3 linked regions of the Homo sapiens genome follow. The protein of the gene in region 3 interacts with the protein of the main gene of each other region in a biochemical or structural test. Each region holds a gene or a part of one and is shown on either strand. Other genes may lie near its edges.

What was found. The genes of interacting proteins can lie anywhere in the genome.
Region 1: the proteins of SEC23B (region 3) and GALNT1 interact in a test that uses a peptide from one of them, tested with the Homo sapiens proteins (one study listed by BioGRID).
Region 2: the proteins of SEC23B (region 3) and TMED2 interact in a test that uses a peptide from one of them, tested with the Homo sapiens proteins (one study listed by BioGRID).

Annotation. Positions count from the first base shown.
Region 1 is NC_000018.10:35,682,725-35,689,751, reverse strand, and holds part of GALNT1 (polypeptide N-acetylgalactosaminyltransferase 1), read right to left. Parts: intron 6,362-7,027; coding exon 6,154-6,361; intron 3,686-6,153; exon of another isoform or gene 3,381-3,685; intron 3,073-3,380; exon of another isoform or gene 2,821-3,072; intron 2,737-2,820; coding exon 2,566-2,736; intron 580-2,565; coding exon 462-579; intron 1-461. UniProt on the Homo sapiens protein: Catalyzes the initial reaction in O-linked oligosaccharide biosynthesis, the transfer of an N-acetyl-D-galactosamine residue to a serine or threonine residue on the protein receptor.
Region 2 is NC_000012.12:123,587,537-123,594,563, reverse strand, and holds part of TMED2 (transmembrane emp24 domain-containing protein 2 isoform 1 precursor), read right to left. Parts: intron 6,954-7,027; coding exon of another isoform or gene 6,933-6,953; intron 4,223-6,932; coding exon 4,115-4,222; intron 1-4,114. UniProt on the Homo sapiens protein: Involved in vesicular protein trafficking. Mainly functions in the early secretory pathway but also in post-Golgi membranes.
Region 3 is NC_000020.11:18,552,921-18,559,947, reverse strand, and holds part of SEC23B (protein transport protein Sec23B), read right to left. Parts: intron 5,714-7,027; coding exon 5,558-5,713; intron 4,841-5,557; coding exon 4,775-4,840; intron 1-4,774. UniProt on the Homo sapiens protein: Component of the coat protein complex II (COPII) which promotes the formation of transport vesicles from the endoplasmic reticulum (ER).

The DNA.
Region 1 (7,027 bases), on a different chromosome or scaffold from region 3:
AATTCTTTCGCATTTTTATTGAAAAATATAAAGCTGGTAAAGTGACTAGGTTTTATATAAAAAAAATTTTCACACTAAAATAAAAAGCATATTACAAAATGTGAAATTTATGTTTAAATGTGAAATTTATGTTTTTGAGAGTAAAGCAGCAAAGTAGCATATCCAAACTATATATTAGCTTTTAGAGCTTAAATTACTTCCTTGAAAATAATAAAAATTAAAAACAACTAGGGAATCTTGTGTAAGTTTTATAGCTGAACTTCAAAGGTAACTAAATTATTTGCTTCAATAGTTTATAATGAACCCTTACTATCAGTCCTTTTTATGGACTGAAGGCTCTGAAGTTACATTAAACTTGTATTAAATTCAATTTTTATTTTTTATGTAGAGATACATGAATAATCAATGCACATCTATACTTGAAGTTAAATAAAAGATTAAATTTTTTTAAGGGAACTTACCCTAAAGGAAATTTCTAGGTTTTCTCCTCCCCAAATATCCATTCCAGCATCATATGTTCCAATTTCCTGAAAGTAATCTCTGTCTATTGAAAAAAGGCCTCCTGCCATGGTAGGTGTCCTGAAATTCAATAATGCTATACCATTAGCAATTTAAAATTTACAATCAATCAGTTTTTGTTTTTAAAAGCTGTTTCATAACTATTTATAACTACTGAGTAAGTACTTATTCTCACACTCTTCATAAACTTTCATACGCCCCAGGGGCTTTCTGTGTTTTATGCTGTGTTATTTGGTCTTCACACATGACCTGCACCATGGTCATGCTGACTGCTAGACTTGCTGTGTCATGCTTCTGCCCAGACATCCCTCTCTGTCACAGTCCTAAGAGTACTTTCTATCTTTCTTGGCCCTCAGGTCCTAACTGAGTTTAGATCTCAAACTCCTTAAATTAAAGCTGTTCCTCACAATCCTCTCCATCTGACTGTGCACCCACTCCACAGATCCTAGCAACTTCAAGGCAGTTGACTATATTAACCAAGTAGATTGAGGTTAGAGTTACCATGCCATGTTCTAAAGGGTGGCAAATAGTATAAATACATAAGATAAACTGGATGGAAACAGTGAGGTCTTTTCCTAATACCCACTAGAAATCTTTAAGGAGAGGAGACAAAATATAGAATAAAATCAATATGTTCCTTCCTGACTGTGTGGTATATTTTCTGCAAAAGAGGAGTCTAATTCATCAAAATAGGGCTCAGGTATGCAAAGGGAGTGGGAACATGTGAAATTAAGCAGAGAAATTATTAAGAAATGAAGGAAGATTTAAATAAATGAATATCAGCCCATTTGATTTTTATAAAGAACAAGTATGGAGAAAAAGTAAACTCCAACCAGGAGAAAAAAATAAGTTACAGGGACCAAAGATACCACGAAGATTATATTTTAAGATGAACCCTAAAATGTACTCATTGCCTTTCCAGAGGAAACAGTTGTTTCCAAAAAAGGTTTGGACTTATTTTGATTTTAGAAGAAAAAAAGAATGAGAAAAGGATTTAAAAGAAACAGCCAAAATTCAGAATTATCATTTAATACAGGGTTTTCTTGACCTGAGTTTTTTGTGTGCTAAATCTTCTGCATGTACATGTGCATTTTTCTCCATTAGAGAAGACCCATAGCTTTCACCAGATTTTCAAAAAATTTTGTCATTTTTGAAATGTTTAGGAACCCCTGATTTAGATAGTGAATTGCACTAACAGCTAAAGAGAAGAAAAGTCCCTTGCACTACTACTACTAAGAACTCAGGCTAAGGAAAAAAGCACACAGTCAGTGGAAAATCTCTTCAGTGTTGCCAGAACTGAACTTGAATTCAAGGGAAGGCAGACGCAGGAGGCCCAAAAACAGAAAAGCTGAAGCCTGGTTCTGAAGGAACTCTTAATACAGAAGTAGCAGGTCGGTACAATGGGGCTAAATTCTAGGATGGCTCAGAAGAGCTCAAAGGTCTCAATTTCATGTTCTAAAAAGAGCATGAAGATTTTTATTCCATCCTGAAAAAAAAATCTATATATGACCAAGTAGAGAAAAAAAATCAGAGAATAAATGGATTAATGAATTTTTTTATATTTTGTGTCAATTCTAGCTATTTTTATGTTTTACACAAGCTTTTCTAACTTTACCAGTCAATAACTGTCATCCAGATGGTACAAGTCTGAATTTAAAATTGTACATTTTAATGCAAGGACCCAGTTTTAGGTAGTATCTTCACATACTGACACAATTAATTAAGCTAAGTATTATTATCCTTAATAACTGAATTAAAGTACAGATCTGACGCATTTGCAAAATGTTCATAAAGGAATGAAAAAACACGCATGTCATCATTTCTCATGTGCACTAGATTTATAGAATAAGCAAAAATTTCTAATTTTATTAGAGGAGAAATCCTTCTTTAAAACACTCACATATGTGAAAGATGGCTGTTAACTACCATAAGGTATACGAATGCTTCACGTTTCTCAAAATACACTTATCCATTTGATATGATTCCCAAAGCTCCACAACCTTCTGCCAATAACACTTTAGGCAAAATGTCTGACAAATTAATTACCTGACAGGAAGAGTCCGATCACCTTTCCTTCTGTCCATTTCTCTTTGGGGAACAGGATACCAGCGAAAATTGAGCTTCCAGTTGAACCCACCATAGGTCATATCAGAGCCTGCCATGTACTCAAAAGTATCATCACTGATCACATCGATGATGGGACACACCACTGTTCTCCTGATGTCATAAAAGCAAGTTAAGAAATCTTTCAAAACATTCCTGTTTAATGCCAACTACAGAACAATTGTATAGTAAGTGTTTTTATTTTTTATTTTTTCCCTTGAAACAGGGTATCACTACTCTGTCACCACCCAGGCTGGAATGCAGTAGTGCAATCAGGGGCCACTGCAGCCTCGACCTCCTCAAGTGATCTTCCCACCTCAGCTTCCTGAGTAGCTGGGACCACGGCTGGGATCACATAACACCACACTCAACTAATTAAAAAAATTTTTTTTTTGTTTTTTATATTTAAGACTTTAATCTTCAAGGGACTGATTTTAACTATGATATACAGTAAGTATCCAACTTCATTTATTTCTTCTATGGATAACCAGTTGTTCCACCACTATTTATGTAATGGTCCCTTTTTCTTCTGCTGTAACTATGAGTGACTGCTCTGTCATAAATCAAGATTACATACAAAAATGAGCTGGTTTCTAGACCCTACCCTGTTTCACTAGTCTATTTGTGAATTCCTGCATCAATATACCACTGCCATAATTAACACAGCTTTAAAATAAGTCTTGACGCCTAGTAAGGCAAGCCCCCTTAGATCTGATTCTTCTTCAGAAGCATCCCAACTATTTTTTTTCTTTTTACAGTTCCGTATCAATGCTAGAATCGGCCTGTACAGTCTCTCAAAGAAAATTCTGTGGAGATTTCAATTGGAAATGCACTGAATTTATATATGAATTTGGGTAGAATTGATACTCTTATGATATTGACTTTCCTATCCATTTCTCTCTCAAGATTTTTTCGTGAATTTCAGTAAATCTTTTGATAAACATATTCCTATGTGTAGTCTATGACTGCCATTGCTATTACGAATGGTATCTTTTCTTTTTGCATTATATTTTCTAAGTATTCCTTGTTGGTGTGAAATAAACTTTTCATTCTTTTGTTTGGAGATGGAGTCTCACTCCTGTTGCCCAGGCTAGAGGGCAATGGTGCACTCTTGGCTCATTGCAGCCTTGACTTCCTGAGTTCAAGCGATCCTCCCGACTCAGCCTCCCAAGTAGTTGGGACTATAGGCATGCACCACCACGACTGCCTAATTTTTTGTATTTTTAGTAGAGCTGGGGTTTCGCCATGTTGGCCAGACTGGTCTCGAACTCCTGGGTTCAAGTGATCTGCCCACCTCGGTCTCCCAAAGAGCTGGGATTACAGGCGTGAGCCACTGCTCTAGCCTGAACTTTTCTATAGTAATCTCGTGTTTGGCAACATTGCTAAATTCTTATTGTTTCTATTATTTTATGTATAGATTCGTTTTCTTCACAAACACATACACAATTGACAACAATGCTTTTCCTTTTTCCAATAAATAAATGTTCTTTATTTACTGTAGTACTGCAAAACCTAAGAAAGACTTCTAATAATACTAACTGGTGATTGAGGGCATTAACATCTTCTTCCACATCTTTTTAAAAAATGCTTCCAACATTTCTCCATTAACATGATTTCTGCTTGCAAAGGCTTTTTTTTTTTTTTTAAGCCATCCTTTCTTGGATTAGTAAACTTCCACTGTATAATAGTTTGCTAAGTATTTTCTAACAATAAATTCATGTTAAATTTCAGTGAACCCTTTTTCATTATCTATGGGAGTGATCAGAGGTGTTTAATAAGTTTGTAATCACAGTTTTAAAAATACATTAATGGGATGTATTAAACGAATTAGTTTTTGTAATATTACGCTAAACCAAGCAGTCATGATATCATGATATGTTTTTTACACGCATACGTGCACGTGTGTGTGTGTATATTGCTGGTTTAGTTTGCTGGTATTGTGAGATTTTTGTACTAGCATTCATGAACAGATTTGCACTGTAATTTTCCTTGTAGTACTTTTCTGGTTTTCATATCACAGTTATACCAGCCTCATAAAAAGAGTTTGGTTCGTTTCCTCTTTTTCTATATTGTTTACAAATTCTTAGGGGAGATTTGTTTCCCCTCTGCCACTGCATACCAAGGTTGAGACAGGCAAGTTTTCTCTGATGTGGTGGGATTAATTTTTCATTCTTGCTTTATACTAAGATACAGATTTCAAGAGCCCAGCTTTATACAGGTGTTTGCTATTAACCTTCTCACCTGAGGCAGGACCTAGGTTTTTGTCTCCTATCCTTCCATCTTATTTGTCTCTCAAGGCAGAAGCTTAGTGACCCCAAAGTTCAGCAGAAACCCTACCAGCGAAAGCTGGCTTTAGTGTTTGGACTGCACATTTGCTCTCACTTCTTTTCGAGATTTGCAAATTTCTTCCTTTTGTGCCAACTCAATGATGCATTTAAAATTTGTTTTGTCTTTTATCCAGCTTTTTCAGTTGGAAAAGTTATTCAGAATATCGAATCCACCATGCAGCCCAAACTGGAAGTCACTGTGGTTGCTATTTCAGCTGACTCCCTTCCATACTTCTGTCATCACCTCACCTTGCTTTCTCTCTATGGGTTGTGTGTTATCTTCAGGCGAGCAAATATTCCCTAAAACGTCATCTATTATTTAAAGAAAATAATTTACAGATATCCTATTCTTTTGATTCTTCAGGGCAATGTTCTCTTTTCTAAAGCTGCTCTACTTTCCCATTGATTGGCCCAATGCTGAGTTTTCCTATTTATTCATCTTTGAAAGGGAAAAAATATAGATCCAGCATTTGCTATCAAACAGAATAGATGCTGTGGCTTTAGCTCCCACCGTGTTCCACTTGACTAGTAAAAGTTCACTCCACTAAAATCTAAACATGGACAGTCTCTACCTCAAATTACAATGACAAGCAGAAATTCAACCAACATAGGTCTAGCAGACTGAAGTCAGGTTCTCTCCTGATGCACAAGAACTAAGCCAGAAATAGGGAGTTCTTTGAAAAATGTGTAACATGAAAAACTATAACCACAGGTGTTCATTACACCACTGTTCTTCCTGTATTATCTAAGATTATGGTGCTTTCCATACAAAATTAAGCATTTCAGGACACAATGTGCTTCTCTCCATTCTCTTCTACTTCTTGCTGCACTACAAGCTGAGAGGATCTGCCTGCTCCAGCATTAGCTTTAGAGTGCAAGGACAAGTGAAGGGTTTTATGCTGTCTTCCCTGAGTTCACCATCTATCTGTTCTGCTCCAGCTTGGTGAACACAGCATATAGTATACATTCCAATGACATGCTTCCTAATCACTCCTCATTAGTACAACAGTTTGCAAACATTCCTGCCAGGCTTCAGAATGTGGTCTTCTGGATATTTCCTTTAGAGTCCTCTTCACGGATATTTTAAAGCAAACTTGGGAGGAAATTACTTTTATATTTATTTAAAAAATATAGAATTTGGCAACTCACCATATAGTTTAGGACAAATGTACTAAAAGCAAACTTACAGACACCAGAAAATTACCTGTCATGTTTGATCCTGGCCAAGAGAGGCTCCAGCCATCCCACTGTACACTCACAATGGGCATCCAGGAAGGTGATCACTTGGCCTTTAGACACAGCAGCTCCTTTTAATCTAGCTCTGATCAATCCAGAACGTTGTTCCATTCGAATTACATGAACTGGTACTTTTAGTTTTTTCACATAACTCTCTAAAGGCCTTTTCAAAAAGTCTGGAAAATGAACAAAAGAAAACATGCAAACCAGTGTGGCCTGGCACTATTCAGATGAAAGTAATTTTGATTTGGAAAATTTATTCAACATACCCTTACTGAACACTCTCAGTGAGGCTCCCTGACTCATAAACCCATTCTGCTAAAGGAAGCCTTTATATTCCCCAAGAGAATGGACTACAGCTGCCTCTATTTTATTATATGCAGAATTAGGAGAATGCCTTTGTGCTCAGACTTAACCAAGGATAGGAATGCTCCTATGTTTCGCTAAGTAACTCTGTTAGACTCAATTCTTTCTCTAATCATGCTTAAGGATCAGCAATACAAAGAAAGCATTAAATCCAGACCTCAACAGAGAGAAGACACAGAATATGTAATAGCTGTAGAGTTCAGAAAATTGTGAAATTTCCTCAGAAGCACAAACAAATTGTCTTGTTGATTACCATGGTCTTTGACTATACTTTTTTTTTTTTTTTTTTTTTAATCAGGGGGCAGAAAGTGGGGTCACACTTGGAAAAGAAATGCTGGACTGTTAACTGCAAGGCCAAATAGAGATCCTTAAACTGACAATTAGGTGTAAGAAAAAAAGTTTAAAAAGGAAAGGGCAATTGAAGAAGAAAAGAGAAAAAGTGGGCAAAAGGGGAAAGGGAGAGTATGTGGGTGTAT
Region 2 (7,027 bases), on a different chromosome or scaffold from region 3:
TTGGTCTCAAGCTCCTGACCTCAAACAATCCTCCTGCCTCAGGCTCAGAAGCAGCTAAGACTACAGGCACAAGCCATTGTGTCCAACTCTCCAGTCAAATTCTATAGCCTTAGCTTTTAATTACTATGTAGGCTGGGCACAGTGGCTCATGCCTGTAATCCCAGCACTTTGTGAGGTCGAGGCGGGTGGATCACGAGGTCAGGAGATCGAGACCATCCTGGCTAACACAGTGAAACCCCGTCTCTACTAAAAATAAAAAAAATTACCCAGGCGTGGTGGCAGGCACCTGTAGTCCCAACTACTCGAGAGGCTGAGGCAGGAGAATGGCGTGAACCTGGGAGGCGGAGCTTGCAGTGAGCCGAGTTTGCACCACTGCACTCCTGCCTGGGCAACAGAGCGAGACTCCATCTCAAAAAAAAAAAAAAATTCTATGTAGTGTTTTATTTTTCTGCAAATAGCCAACATTAAAAACAATTACACTATAATCCCAGGACTTTGGGAGGCTGAGACAGGAGGACTGCTTTTGCTCAGGAGTCAGAGGCCAACCCTGGGCAATATGGAGAAACCCAGTCTCTACAATACCAAAAAAAAAAAAAAAAAATTAGCCAGGTGTAGTGGCACATGCCTGTAGTTCCAGCTACTTGGGAGGTTGAGGCGGGAGGATCACTTGAGCCCAGGAGGTTGAGGCTGCAGTGAGCTGTATTGTCAGCACAGCACTACAGGCTGGGCAACAGAGTAAGACCCTGTGTCTCTAAAAAGAAAATAGGGCTTGGCGTGGTGGCTCACGCCTGTAATCCCAGCACTTTGGGAGGCCAAGGCGGGTGGATCACAAGGTGAAGAGATAGAAACCATCCTGGCCAACGTGGTGAAACCCCGTCTACTAAAAATACAAAAATTAGCTGGGCTTAAAGATTCACTGGGTACAGCCAAGTCCATTCCGCTTGTATACGGGGAGCAGAGAAGAAAAGGTGACTTGCCCAAGGTCATAATTCTAGGGTTAACACCCAATCCAACCATCTTTCTCCCTCACCATTGAAACGTCCTATATTACTATCCATTTTGCTGAATCAGAAAACTGACTTCTACAAAAAATTAAGGAATTATTTCAAAATCACAGTTATCCAAAATGCAATTATTTACAACGTCAAAATTTGGTGGTGGCGTGCGCCTGTAGTCCCAGCTACTCAGGAGGCTGAGGCAGGAGAATCGCTTGAACCCAGGAGGTGGAGATTGCAGTGGGCTGAGATAGCACCACTGCACTCCAGCCTGGGCAACAGAGCAAGACTCCGTCTAAAAAAAAAACAACAAAAACCAGAGAGTCTGTAAAAAGAAAATAGGCCAGACACAGTGGCTCAGGCCTGTAATCCCAGCACTTTGAAAGGCAGAGGCAGGTGGATCACTCAAGCCCACGAGTTCAAGACCAGCCTAGGCAACTCCTGGGTTCAAGTGATCTCAGCCTCCCAAGCAGCTGGGATTACATGTGCCTGGCTAATTTTTGTATTTTTAGTAGAGATGGGGTTTCACCATATTGGCCAGGCTGTTCTCTTGGCCAGGCTGGTCTCGAACTACTGACCTCGTTATTCGCCTGCCTCAGCCTCCCAAAGTGCTGAGATTACAGGCATGAGCCACTGTGCTCGGCCTAATTTTTGCATTTTTAGTAGAGACGGGGTTTCACCATGTTGGCCAGGCTGGTCTCAAACTCCTGACCTCAGGTGATCCACCTGCCTCGGCCTCCCAAAGAAAAATGCACCTTTAAGTTTAAATAGAACACATTGAAGCACAGTAACATCAGAATGTAGTGACCTGGGACACTGTCCTCATGCCACTCATATATCAGCCTGATCTAGAAGCAACACATTATTATTACAACACTGTAGTGAAAGGATCTCATTATGTTCACTGCTGAGGAGTGGGTCCTATAGGAAGACTCACAAAAACAAAACATTATGGGAACCATTTGCTTTGTAAATTTAAACTGAATGCCTATAAACTCAATTCTAGAAATTGCTAACACTTTTAAATATGAACACATAGCTCACTATTTGTGAAACAAATACAGGAGTATCTCCACTCAAATCATGGGTGAGAGAACAAGGTTGGACACCCTAAAGACGGAAGACATGTGCTTCCTCTGGCCACTGTGTTCCCAAGAACTTCTATAACTTGAAAGCCATCTGGTCTGAACCAGTTAAAATTGCAAAGTAGAGGAACTTGCCCTCTGAGTTAGTTCAGTGCCCTTCCAACTCCAGAATGGGCTGTTTCCCCATCTGGGAACAAGGTAAACAACATATGAGTCCCAACAAGATAAGAGAGAAAAAGTGAAGATCCCAGCTGGTGAGATTAAGAGTGGAGGCAAGGAGACAAAATTGTGAGGCAAGAGGCTGGAGTAATTGTAGACAAGCCTTGGTCCATAATATGCCCCACTCCACTCCTAAAACAAGTGGGGATGAGGGGAGTTCTCCAGGCTATTACATTTACACACCTTCCTGCCAACACAAGCTGATGTCTGTGCTCTAGATCCTGAAGATTTGTTTCCATAAGTAGCAAGAACAGATTTAAGGGTAGGAAAAACAGAAAGCACATCTGGAAGAAATTCAAGCTGTGCTTATCTCTTTGAGTCACTCTTCACTTCCTACTCCAGTCTCAGAACAAAGATTCCTGACATAAAATCACTGCCCTTAAGACAAGAGCTTGCTCCCAAGCAATCCCCCGCCTCAGCCTCCTGAGTAGCTGGGACTACAGAGATGCGTCACTATACCTTGCTCTTTTTCCTTTTTTTTTTTCAGACAGAGTCTCGCTCTGTCGCCAGGCCGGAGTGCAATGGCATGATATCAGCTCACTGCAACCTCCGCCTCCGGGGTTCAAGTGATTCTCCTGCCTCAGCCTCCTGAGTAGCTGGGACTACAGGCGCGTGCCACCATGCCCGGCTAATTTTTGTAGTTTTAGTAGAGGTGGGATTTCACCATGTTGGCCAGGATGGTCTCAGTCTCTTGACCTTGTGATCCGCCCACCTCAGCCTCCCAAAGTGCTAGGATTACAGGCGTGAGCCACTGCCCCCAGCCACCTTGCTCTTTTCATCTCCCCAAGAACTACCTGGAGGATGAAAACACTGAACAATGGTGTGGCCCTGAACCTAATCAATGGAATTGGTCTGTCTGTCAATATAGTACCTCTTAATTTTAAATGCAAAAGCTTCATTTTTAATGCTCTATCCAGTTCTAAACAGACTTTTGCAACCTAACACAAGATTTCAATCATCACTGTTTCCACAGCAAAATACATTCCAAATTCCCAACTTACAAACTTGAGGACCCAAACTGATCTTCACCTGGTGACTTCCCTGTACTCATGTTTTGGTGTTTTCTAGTCTAACTATATTAAGCTTTCCATTTTAGTAAAAAGGTTAAATCTCAGCATCTAATATTAATCCCACTGGTACATAAGTTTCAGGTATGTGATTAAAAACCAATGCAATACGCATTTTACAACATTTTTCCCTTCTGATTTAAGAAAACAATTAGCTTATTCCTTAGCTCACCATACATTTTTAAAAACCCAAACTTTTTTTTTTTTTTTTCCCTGAGACAGAGTCTAGCTCCATTGCCCAGGCTGGAGTGCAGTGGCCCAATCTCAGCTCACTGCAACCTCTGCCTCCCGGTTCAAGTGATTCTCATGCCTCAGCCTCCCGAGTAGCTGGGACTATAGGTGCACGCCACCACACCCAGCTAATTTTTTTATTTTTTGTAGAGACGAGGTTTCACCATGTTGGCCAGGCTGGTCTCGAACTCCCAACCTCAGGTGATCCGCCTGCCTCAGCCTCCCAAAGTGCTGGGATTACAGGCGTGAGCCACCATGCCCGGCCAGAAAACTAAACTCTTAAAAACTTGTACTAAATCTTAATAGCATTTTCTAGTTTACAATGAATGTCCCAATAATAAACTACAAAGCTCCACACATGTGTATGCTCAAAAAATATCTCGTGTAGGTACACTTTTAAAGTCAATGCTTTCACATAAAATTTGCAAAGTTTCCAAATGAGGAAAATACGAGCAAGCTGTTGAGTAAAACAACCTTCACCATCAGACACTGCTGCAAAGTGACGGCATTCACTTACTGGCTCTGTGTATTCTCTCCCGGACTTCCATGTATTCCTGTTCGTGCTTTACAGCTGTCATCGCCACTGCTAGCTCATTGATCATTTCTTCTAGCTTGTTCTGGTGAGCTATAGAAGGATTTGAAAACAAAACACATTTGTCAATGTCTTTTTTTTTTTTTTTTTGAGACAGAGTCTCGCTCTGTTGCCCAGGCTGGAGTGCAGTGGTGCTCAATCTCAGCTCACTGCAACCTCTGCCTCCCAGGCTGAAGCGATTCTCCTGCCTCAGCCTCCAGAGTAGCTGGGATTACAGGCACACGCTGCCACACCCAGCTAATTTTTGTATTTTTAGTAGAGACGGGGTTTCACCATGTTGGTCAGGCTGGTCTTGAACTCCTGACCTCAGGTGATCCACCTGCTTGAGCCTCCCAAAATGCTGGAATTACATGCGTGAGCCACTGCACCCAGCCATCTTTTTTTTTTTTCAAGACAGGATCTCACTCTATCACCCAGGCTCAAGTACAGTGGTGCAATTATAGCTCACTGTAACCTAAAATTCCTGGGCTCAAGCAATCCCCTGCCTCAGCCTCCTGAGGGGTGCGTCACTATGCCTGACTACCATTTTATTTTTATTTTTTAGAGACGGGGTCTCGCTATGTTGCCTAGGCTGGGGCAATCTCTTTTTGAAAAACACTTATAAAATAAATATAAAATATAAAATAATATAAAATAACTTTTCAAAATCCTCAGAGAAGGCCTGCAAAAGAAGCTACTTTTGAAATGGTTCAAACATCAATTTGGACTACTGATATGAATCATGTCAATTTAATTCTCAAAGCATTTTTAAAAGTCCCTTCCCAGTAGAGAAACCTCTTTCAGGGTAGGAAACATACTATATAATGCTTACTAAGGAAAGGAAAACAACCCCAGGAAATTTCTTCTAATGGAATGTTGTTATGTGAAGTTCACTATACTGACTATTAACTACAGCAAAAGTAGTAAAACACTGAGGAGAGGGGACTAAGAGCACAAAATAAATACCTGTATTTTTAAAATGTAATCCTACAAATAAAGTCTAAGAGTCATGTAACTCTAATATTAATTAAGAAGCAGGAGCAGCACCAAAACAGACTCTTAATCTCTATAAAGCTGAGCAGAGAAAAACATTAAAACGCTCTTAGGAAAATCCACACCAACTCAAACATTCTTCTTTGACAAAGTAATAGTTTCACTATAGTGGGGAACAGCAGGCAATGTAAGTAGAGAGACAAGCCCTTAGCGGCACAAGTTTTCAACCAGGCATCCCTCTTGAACCAAAAATACACACAAGGCACTGTTCTGAAGAGTAAGCATGTGCTTCTAGGTAGTGCCACGTTATGAGAATGAACAGACAGGCAGGAGAGAAACAGCACCAGGAAACCTTCCTGGGAAAGGGGGATCTCTTCATCCCTGCCCAAGACTGGGTCTCTTCTGGGATTCCAGATTCTCGCAGACAACCCCAAGTTTCTTAGGAGAAACCAAGGGCCTCTACCATTGAAGGCAGTTGAATTGGAATGTCAAACCGTCCCTCACTCGAAATTTCCCTTTGGAAGCCCCATGCACCACATGGAACTGATAGAGCAGGGTTTCTCAGCAGTGGCATTGTCTCCATTTTGGACCAAATGCTTTTCTATGCTGTGGGGCGCTATCTGATGCACTATAGGGTATTTAGCAGCCTCCATGGCCTCCAGTCCTAGATGCCTGTAGCACCTACCCCCAGTCTTCCGAATAAAAAATACCTCCAGATATTGCCAAATATCCCCTGGGCATCCTCACTTGAGAACCACTGCTTTAGAGGAAGGCTTGATTTGACAGCTGCCATTCACTGACATTAACAAGCAAAAGCAAGAATTTTGGATATATGTTAAAAAATTATCTAAGAAGTTCAATATTCACATTCATCAACCAACATTTTCAAACTATTTAAGTAGGATCAAACTCCAGAAAATAAACCAAAAAAGCCTTTCAGAACTCCTCATTCTCCCTGAAAATTAGTCAAGTCCTACCCTATAAGTGGCCCTGAAAAATGAGTGCAGGAATTACTAAGTAGTAGGACTCTCTAAATTCTATAGATTTCAAAATCCAACCAAACAACTCAGCTTCTTTATGATGTTAACACTCTACTGATACTGAATATCTGGGAGAAATGTTACCACGCTAATAGTATACTATGAAATGTGTGAAACAATGACTAGCTTCAAAAACTCTGGCATGCACTGTGGGGAAAAAAAAAACAAAAAAAAACACCACCAAATGTGCTGGCTCCCGGTAAGCAATTTATCCAGAACCACCAAGAACCAATCAGGGTTTATTACTGGTAACCTGAGCAATGAACACTCTAACTGCAACATATGGCTAAAAGAACTCTTGTCTTCATATCAACATATGGCTCCTAGAACTGCATTTCATATCCAACTAAGCTTCAGGTTAAGAAGTCTACAAAATGACTTTCTACAAAGTCAAAGGCACCATTTGCTATGAGCTATGTTTAATTGGGACTTCTGTCCCCTTATCATTGAATTTCCACTCTTTAGCATTCATCTTAAAGAACAAAGATGTTACTACTAAAATGTCAACTGTGTTTTCAGTGCTATTAGTTTAAAATAACCTAACCTATACCTCCTGTCAACGAAATAAAAAACCACCAAAAAAAATATCAATCCAATTAGTTGTAGGGGTTTTTTAAGAGAAAAAAACACTCTCATGCCAACAAACTGAGGTTAGAAAAAAGAAAGCAGAAATTAGACATTAGCAAACAAAAAGATGCAAAAAGGATGCTGTCAAAAAGCAATCCACATACCATCCCAGGTATCTCCACCACCTAAAGAAAAGTTAAGATATCTTAACACAAAAAGAACCAACAAAAAGTTTAGCTAAACTAGTCATGTATACAAA
Region 3 (7,027 bases):
AAAATGTTTTCAGAGGATTTCGAGGAAGGAATAGAATATATACTTTTCTCTATTCCTCCCACTAAGTACAACTGAAAACTTCGGGCATCTTATGTAAACCAAACATAAGAAGACTTTTAAAGGTGGAGAGAAGACAGAAAAACTAAAGACCTTGGGACCCAAGGATGCACAGCAGTGAGTTCCTTGGGCTTTCTTATGCCTCATATACTCTGAATTTGGAGCTGAGGAAGCTGGCAAATTGTCATTGAGCACAGACTCAAACAAAACAAAACAACAAAAAACACCCACTTTCTCTAGCCAAAGGACTAAAGCAGCCTAGCAAGACAGAACAATCTTAGATAATAACCACTGTACTCCGGGCAAAAATGAGAGGAAAAACTGTGGCCCTGACCCACCTGAACCAGCAAAGGCTGGGTGGGCAGCTACAATTTCTACCCTCACAAGGCAGTAACAAGGCACCCTAATACTCCCACCAAGATGGTGCCAGAGAAGGCTAAGTATGGAACCAGGAAGTTCATCCCCAATGGCCAAGTAAAAAAATTTTCCTACCCCTGTGGTGTCAGTAGAGGCCATTTGGGGAGCCTGGACTTCCACCGCAACCTGGCAAAATATATGTCCCTCCGCCTGCCTACTGGGGTGGCCTCAGAGGCCTGGAGGAGGGTCAGGACTTTCACCATCACCCAAGTGTAACAAGGCCATCTCCACAGCGGTCTCACTGGAGGCTATGGGGGAGCTGGAACTCTCATTCCCACTAAGCAGTAACAAGAAATCACTAGACACCCCGAGGTGTCAACAGAGGCCAGTGGAAAACCTGGACTTCTCCACCTGGCAGTAATGGAGCCCACCAGTGCCCCCGACACCCCCCCCACCAACCACCTTCCCTGTCAGAGTAGTGTAAGAAAAAATCAGCGAAAAGTAGCAGGTTTAAATAAGATCCAGGGTCTCATACAAACACTCAAGTGTCCAAGTTTCAATAAAAAAATCACTTACACAAAGTGATTACCAAGACCTCCACCTGAATTAAAAAAGACAAGTGACAGGTGTTAACACTAAGTTGACAACAATGTTAGAATCACCTGACAAAGATTTTAAAACAGCCATGATAAAAATGCTTCATGAGCAATTACAAACACACTTGAAACAAATGAAAAAATAGGAAGCCTCAGCAAAGAAACAACAAGGTCCCAGGAAAGAAGTGGAAGTCACGGAGAACCAAAAGGAAATTTTGTAACTGAAAAATACAGTGACAAACAAAAAGCGCAGTGCATAGGTTCAATGCAGAAAGAGAACAGAAAAAAGAATCAATACATTGGAAGACAAAACAATAGAAGTTACCCAAATGAACAAAAGAAAGAAAATACATGGAAATGTAGTACCTGGGGTACTGCAAAAGATCTAACATTCATGTCACTGGATGTCAAGAAAGAAAGAAAAGAGAGCAGGTGAAAAGGCATTCAAAGAAATAAGGACTGAAAACTTTCCTATTTGGCAAGAGATAGAAACCTACAGAAGCAAAAAGCTGAGTAAATCAAAACAGGATAAACCCACAGAAATCCATGCCAAGACATGTCATAATTACACTTTCTTCTCTGCCCCTGCCCATCCACCCTGAAAACTAACAACAGAAAAAGACTACTGGAAGCAGCCAGAGGAAAATGACACCTTCTCTACAGGGGAAAACAATGAGACTGACAGTGAACTTTTCATAAGAAACCATAAAGGCCAGAGGAAGCAGCACAATATTTTTCAACTGCTTAAAGAAAAGGGCTGTTAGTCAGAATCCTATATGCAGAGAAAATATTCTTCAGAAATGAAAGGGACGTCAAGACATTCTCAAATAAAAGAAAACTAAAAATCTATCACCAGAAGACCTATGCTAAAAGAATGGTTAAAAGTAGGCCAGGCGCGGTGGCTCATGCCTGTAATCCCAGCACTTTCAGAGGCTGAGGCGGGCGGATCACCTGAGGTCAGGAGTTCGAGACCAGCCTGACCAACATGGAGAAACCCTGTCTCTACTAAAAATACAAAATTAGTCAGGCGTGGTGGTGCATGCCTGTAATCCCAGCTACTCGGGAGGCTGAGGCAGGAGAATTGCTTGAACCTGGAGGCGGAGGTTGCGGTGAGCTGAGATCACACCATTGCACTCCAGCCTGGGCAACAAGTGCAAAACTCCATCTCAAAAAAACAAAAAAAAAAAAAAAAGAAAAGAAAAAAGAAAAAAAGAATGGCTAAAAGATCTCTAAAAAGAAAGAAAACAATAAAAGCAACCATGTAGAGAAATATAATAGGTTTTTCTTTTAAGACTTATCAATTATGTTTGATGCTTGAAACAAAAATTATAACACTGTCTGATGTGATACTAAATGTATGCAGAGGAAATATTTAACATAATTATATTACCGATGGAGGAGAGTAAAGTGTTGAAAAGGGAGGTAAGGTCTCTAGACTTCGCTTGAACACCAGTAGACTGTGATAAGTTATGCATATATGATGTAATACCTAGGGCCTGGCCAGGTGTGGTGGCTCATGCCTATAATCCCAGCACTTTGGGAGGCTGAGGTGGGAGGATCGCTTGACCTCAGGAGTTTAGGACCAGCCTAGGCAACATAGCAAGACCTCATCTCAATTAAAATAAAAAAACCTAGGGCACTTAGGAGCAACCACTTAAAAAGCTAAATAAGGAGATACACTCAAAAACATTACAAACAAGTCAGAAGGGAATCCTAAAACATGTTCAAATAACTCATGGGAAGGCAGGAAAAAAGTACGTAAGATGAAAAAAGAAAAGCAGAAAACAAAAAATAAAATGGCACACTTAAGCCCTAACATATCATTAATTACATTATATATAAATGGTCTAAATATACCAAGTAAGAGAGCTCAGCAGAGTGCATTAAAAACCATGACCCAACTATAAGCTGTCTATAATAAATTCACTTCTTTTTGTTTTTCAAGATAGCGTCTTGCTCTGTTGCCCAGGCTGGAGTGCAGTGGCGTGATCTCAGCTTACTGCAACCTCCGCCTCCTGGGTTCAGGCAATTCTCCTGCCTCAGCCACCCAAGTAGCTGGGACTACAGGCGCATGCCACCACACCAGCTAATTTTTGTATTTTTGGTAGAGACGGGGGTTTCACCGTGTTGGCTAGGCTGGTCTCGAACTCCTGACCTCGTGTTCTGCCTACCTTGGCCTCCCAAAGTGCTGGGATTACAGGCGTGAGCCACCGCACCCAGCCAAGAGTTTTTAAAAACCTACTGCAAACAGGAGAGAGGAAATAACAATGACTAGAGCAGCAATCAATGAAATTGAAAATAAAAAGATAATAAAGTCAATGAAATGAAGAGCTGATTCTTTGAGAAAATAAAGTAAAAGTTATTCAGATTGAAAAGGAAGAAATAAAACTGTCCCCGGCTTGCAGATGACATGATTGTCTAAGTAGAAATTTCTGAGAAGTTTACAAAAAAACTCCTAAGAGTAGTAAGCGACTCAGGAAGGTCACAGAATACAAGATAAACATACCAAAGTCAATTGTATTTCTATATACAGTCATCCCTCAGTATCTGTGGGGGAATGGTTTTAGGACCTCCTGTGGATCCCCAAATCCACAAATGCTCAAGTCCCTAATACAAAATGGTGTAGCATTTGCATATAACCTATGCATACCCTCCCATACACTTTAAATCAGGGGTCCCCAACTGCAGGCCACGGATAGTACCAGTCCTTGGCCTGTTAGGAACCAGGCCACACACCAGGTGAGTGGCAGGTAAGTAAGTGAAGCTTCATTTGTATTTACAGCTGCTCCCCCATCACGTGCATTACCACCTGAGCTCCACCTCCCATCAGATCAGTAGCAGTATTAGATTCTAATAGGAGTGCAAACCCTATTGTGAACAACGCATGTGAGGGATCTAGGTTGCATGCTCCTCATGAGAATCTAATGCCTGATGATCTGTCACCGTCTCCCGTCACCCCCAGCTGGGACCATCTAGTTGCAGGAAAACAAGCTCAGGGCTCCCACTGATTCTACATTATGGTGAGTTGTACAATTATTTCATTATATATTACAATGTAACAATAATAGAAATAAAGTGCATAAGTGTGGTGATGGAAATGCTGCACATCTTGACCTTAAAAATCTCAATATCCCGGTTGTGATACTGTATTATAGTTTTTGCAAGATGTTAACACTAAGGGAAAATGGGTAAAAGATACAGGTGATCTCTCTGTATTATTTCTTACAACTATATGTAAATTTACAATATCTCAAAAAAATTTAATTTAAAAATGTTTTAAGAAAACAGAATGAAAGGAAAGACTCATCTGAGAGAGACATAAATGCTGGGAGCAGTTAGATAAAGTAGTAATCAGGCGGGGTTGGGGGAAGAAAAGGGAAGGAATTAGGCTGGAAAGTGAGGAGGCGGCAAAACCGATGGTGACAAGTTGCCCTGTATTCTTGGTGGGGAGAGGACTAGGGGCCATGAGGCTGTGTGACGGAGGACACCACCATGGAGGCCACAGTACAGTGCTCTGTCCCCTGGCCTGAACCTGGTATGTTCTGCTGTATATTGTGGAAGGGGACACACCCAGGGAGCCCCCTCAACCTCCGGCCCAGTAATGTTATTCAACTTGTTTCCCTCCCCGCCACTCCCCAGCAAAATACCCAACTTACGCAGTTATTCTGTCTCCAGGCCAAAAGAGATCCAATTTGTAGAATTTTAAAACAAGTTTAAAAAAAAACTAGCTTAGCATCCTCCCCAAATACCTGAAGATTTCTTACCTGTCCCCAAGCATACAGGTTATTGTGTGTCTGAGATGGGTTCACTTTGGACAAAAGGAATCGAGCCTTTAACAACAACAACAACAAAAAGATTTAAAGATTAAAAAGTGACATTAATATTAATGTAACAGAAAAAAGATAAGTTTTTACAACATTTGTTTGGTTAAATTAGAATTGTTTTACTGCACAGTAATCTAATTAGAATTGTTTTACTGCACAGTAATCTATTTCTTTAGCTTAAGCCCACTGGCTCTCCATTTAAGGATCCTAAAACATAAAATATGTATTTTATCTTGGCAATCCCTTTACATAAGCACATTTTGACCACTCATTTTTTTTTTTTTTTTGAGACGGAGTCTCACTCTGTAGCCCCAGCTGGAGTGCAGTGGCACGATCTCAGCTCACTGCAAGCTCTGCCTCCCGGGTTCACGCCATTCTTCTGCCTCAGCCTCCCGAATAGCTGGGACTACAGGTGCCCGCCACCACGCCCAGCTAATTTTTTGTATTTTTAGTAGAGACGGGGTTTCACCATGTTAGCCAGGATGGTCTCGATCTCCTGACCTCATGATCCGCCCGCCTCGGCCTCCCAAAGTGCTGGGATTACAGGTGTGAGCCACCGCGCTTGGCCTGACCACTCATTTAAAAAGAAGTCATATTTGGAAGATTACCTGTGTGTCAATTTATGTCATCACATAAAATATTAACCATCCTGTTTAGATGTATAGCAATAACAATCTATCATAAAACGAACAAACCACTGGAGTTAGAACTCAGCTCACTCACCTGACTGCCTCCATGCTCCGTGTTGATGTAACGTGGCATCGGGAAGCGTGCTTGCAGAATTTCTTGAGCATCATCCAGTGGTGCCTGCAGAAGGTGCTTGAAGTTTTCATACTCGGGCATGTCCTGGTAGCCAGCTTTACGCCACTGGGCTATGGTCTACACAGAAACAAACCAACCAAAACTATTGTGGAAACTGTAATAACAGCCTTCACTGACACTGACATTCTACCATCGCCACCCAGAGCTTGTTTCTAGTGAAGAAGTCTAATATCAAAAATGACAAGCTTCAGAGGGAGAGCAAAGCAGAGCTACCGGCAGGAGGAGAAGCAGGAGGAAAATGCCCCCGCCTGCGCATTCCCCCAGGAATGTCAGGCGTCACTCATGCCTCCTCTCTTCTATATCAACTAGTTAACAAAGCCCATGGATTACTCATCCCAAGGAGCGGTGGACTCCCTCCTTTTCCACTTCCACTGTTATCACTCAGTCTAGCCTCTCATCTCCGCACATCTGGTAAGGAAAGGGATTTGTTGGCTGCCCACACAGACTCCACTCCCCCATCTCCTTTCCTAACGGCACACATATTACACTCCTCTGGTGAGCAGTAGTCATACAGACTTGCGTGCAATTGTCTCACCCCCATCCCCTGCTCCCCCTGGGCCCTGAATTGGGGTACCCTTGGCAAAGGAGACAAAAGCTGTAAGAATCAAAGTATGAGTGTTGATGAGGCAGTGAGGAGAAGCCATATGCTAAACTGTGGAAAGCAGACGATCTGTCTCCCTGACTACGCTACACATTTTATCACCCTTCCTTCTTTTATACTCATCCACAACTGGTCTAGAAAATATCTTGTATACACAGGAAATCAAGAAACATTCATTAACTGATTCATATACCTTTATAAATAAAGTGAAGTGCTTTCGCATGTTATTTAGGAGAACAAGAAGACAATGGAGAGGAAAAATGGAGAAAGAGGCTACAGCAAGTGTGCAATGTGTCTTAACAGAGCCATTAATATGGCTCCAGGCAGAGGATTCTCATCAGATGCCTCCTTCTGTAGCCTGCTCACTCCTTCTCAAAGTAGCAGTTACCGTTTTCCAGGTCTAAATGCTGTGATTGACTGTTGGCCTATGGGAAATGCCCACGAGCTCACCAGGGTCCAGAAGTTCATAAGAACACTCGCGTTCAGCACGCTCAGGACTTTGGGAAGGTGAGAGCAATGTCACTGTCTTTATCCTTAGAACCCCTCACTTGCACAAGAAGGTGCTCAATAAACAAGTGAATGAACAGGATCAGGGGTTGCAAAAGAAATGTCGATAAGGAGATGAGCTTAAGGCAAAGAAAGCTTCATCCTTAGTACAGTCGGCCCTCGGTATCTGTGAGATTGGTTCCAAGACCACTCCTCCCAATACCAAATTCCATAGATACTCAAGTCCCTCATACAAAATGGCATAGTATTTCATATAACCGATG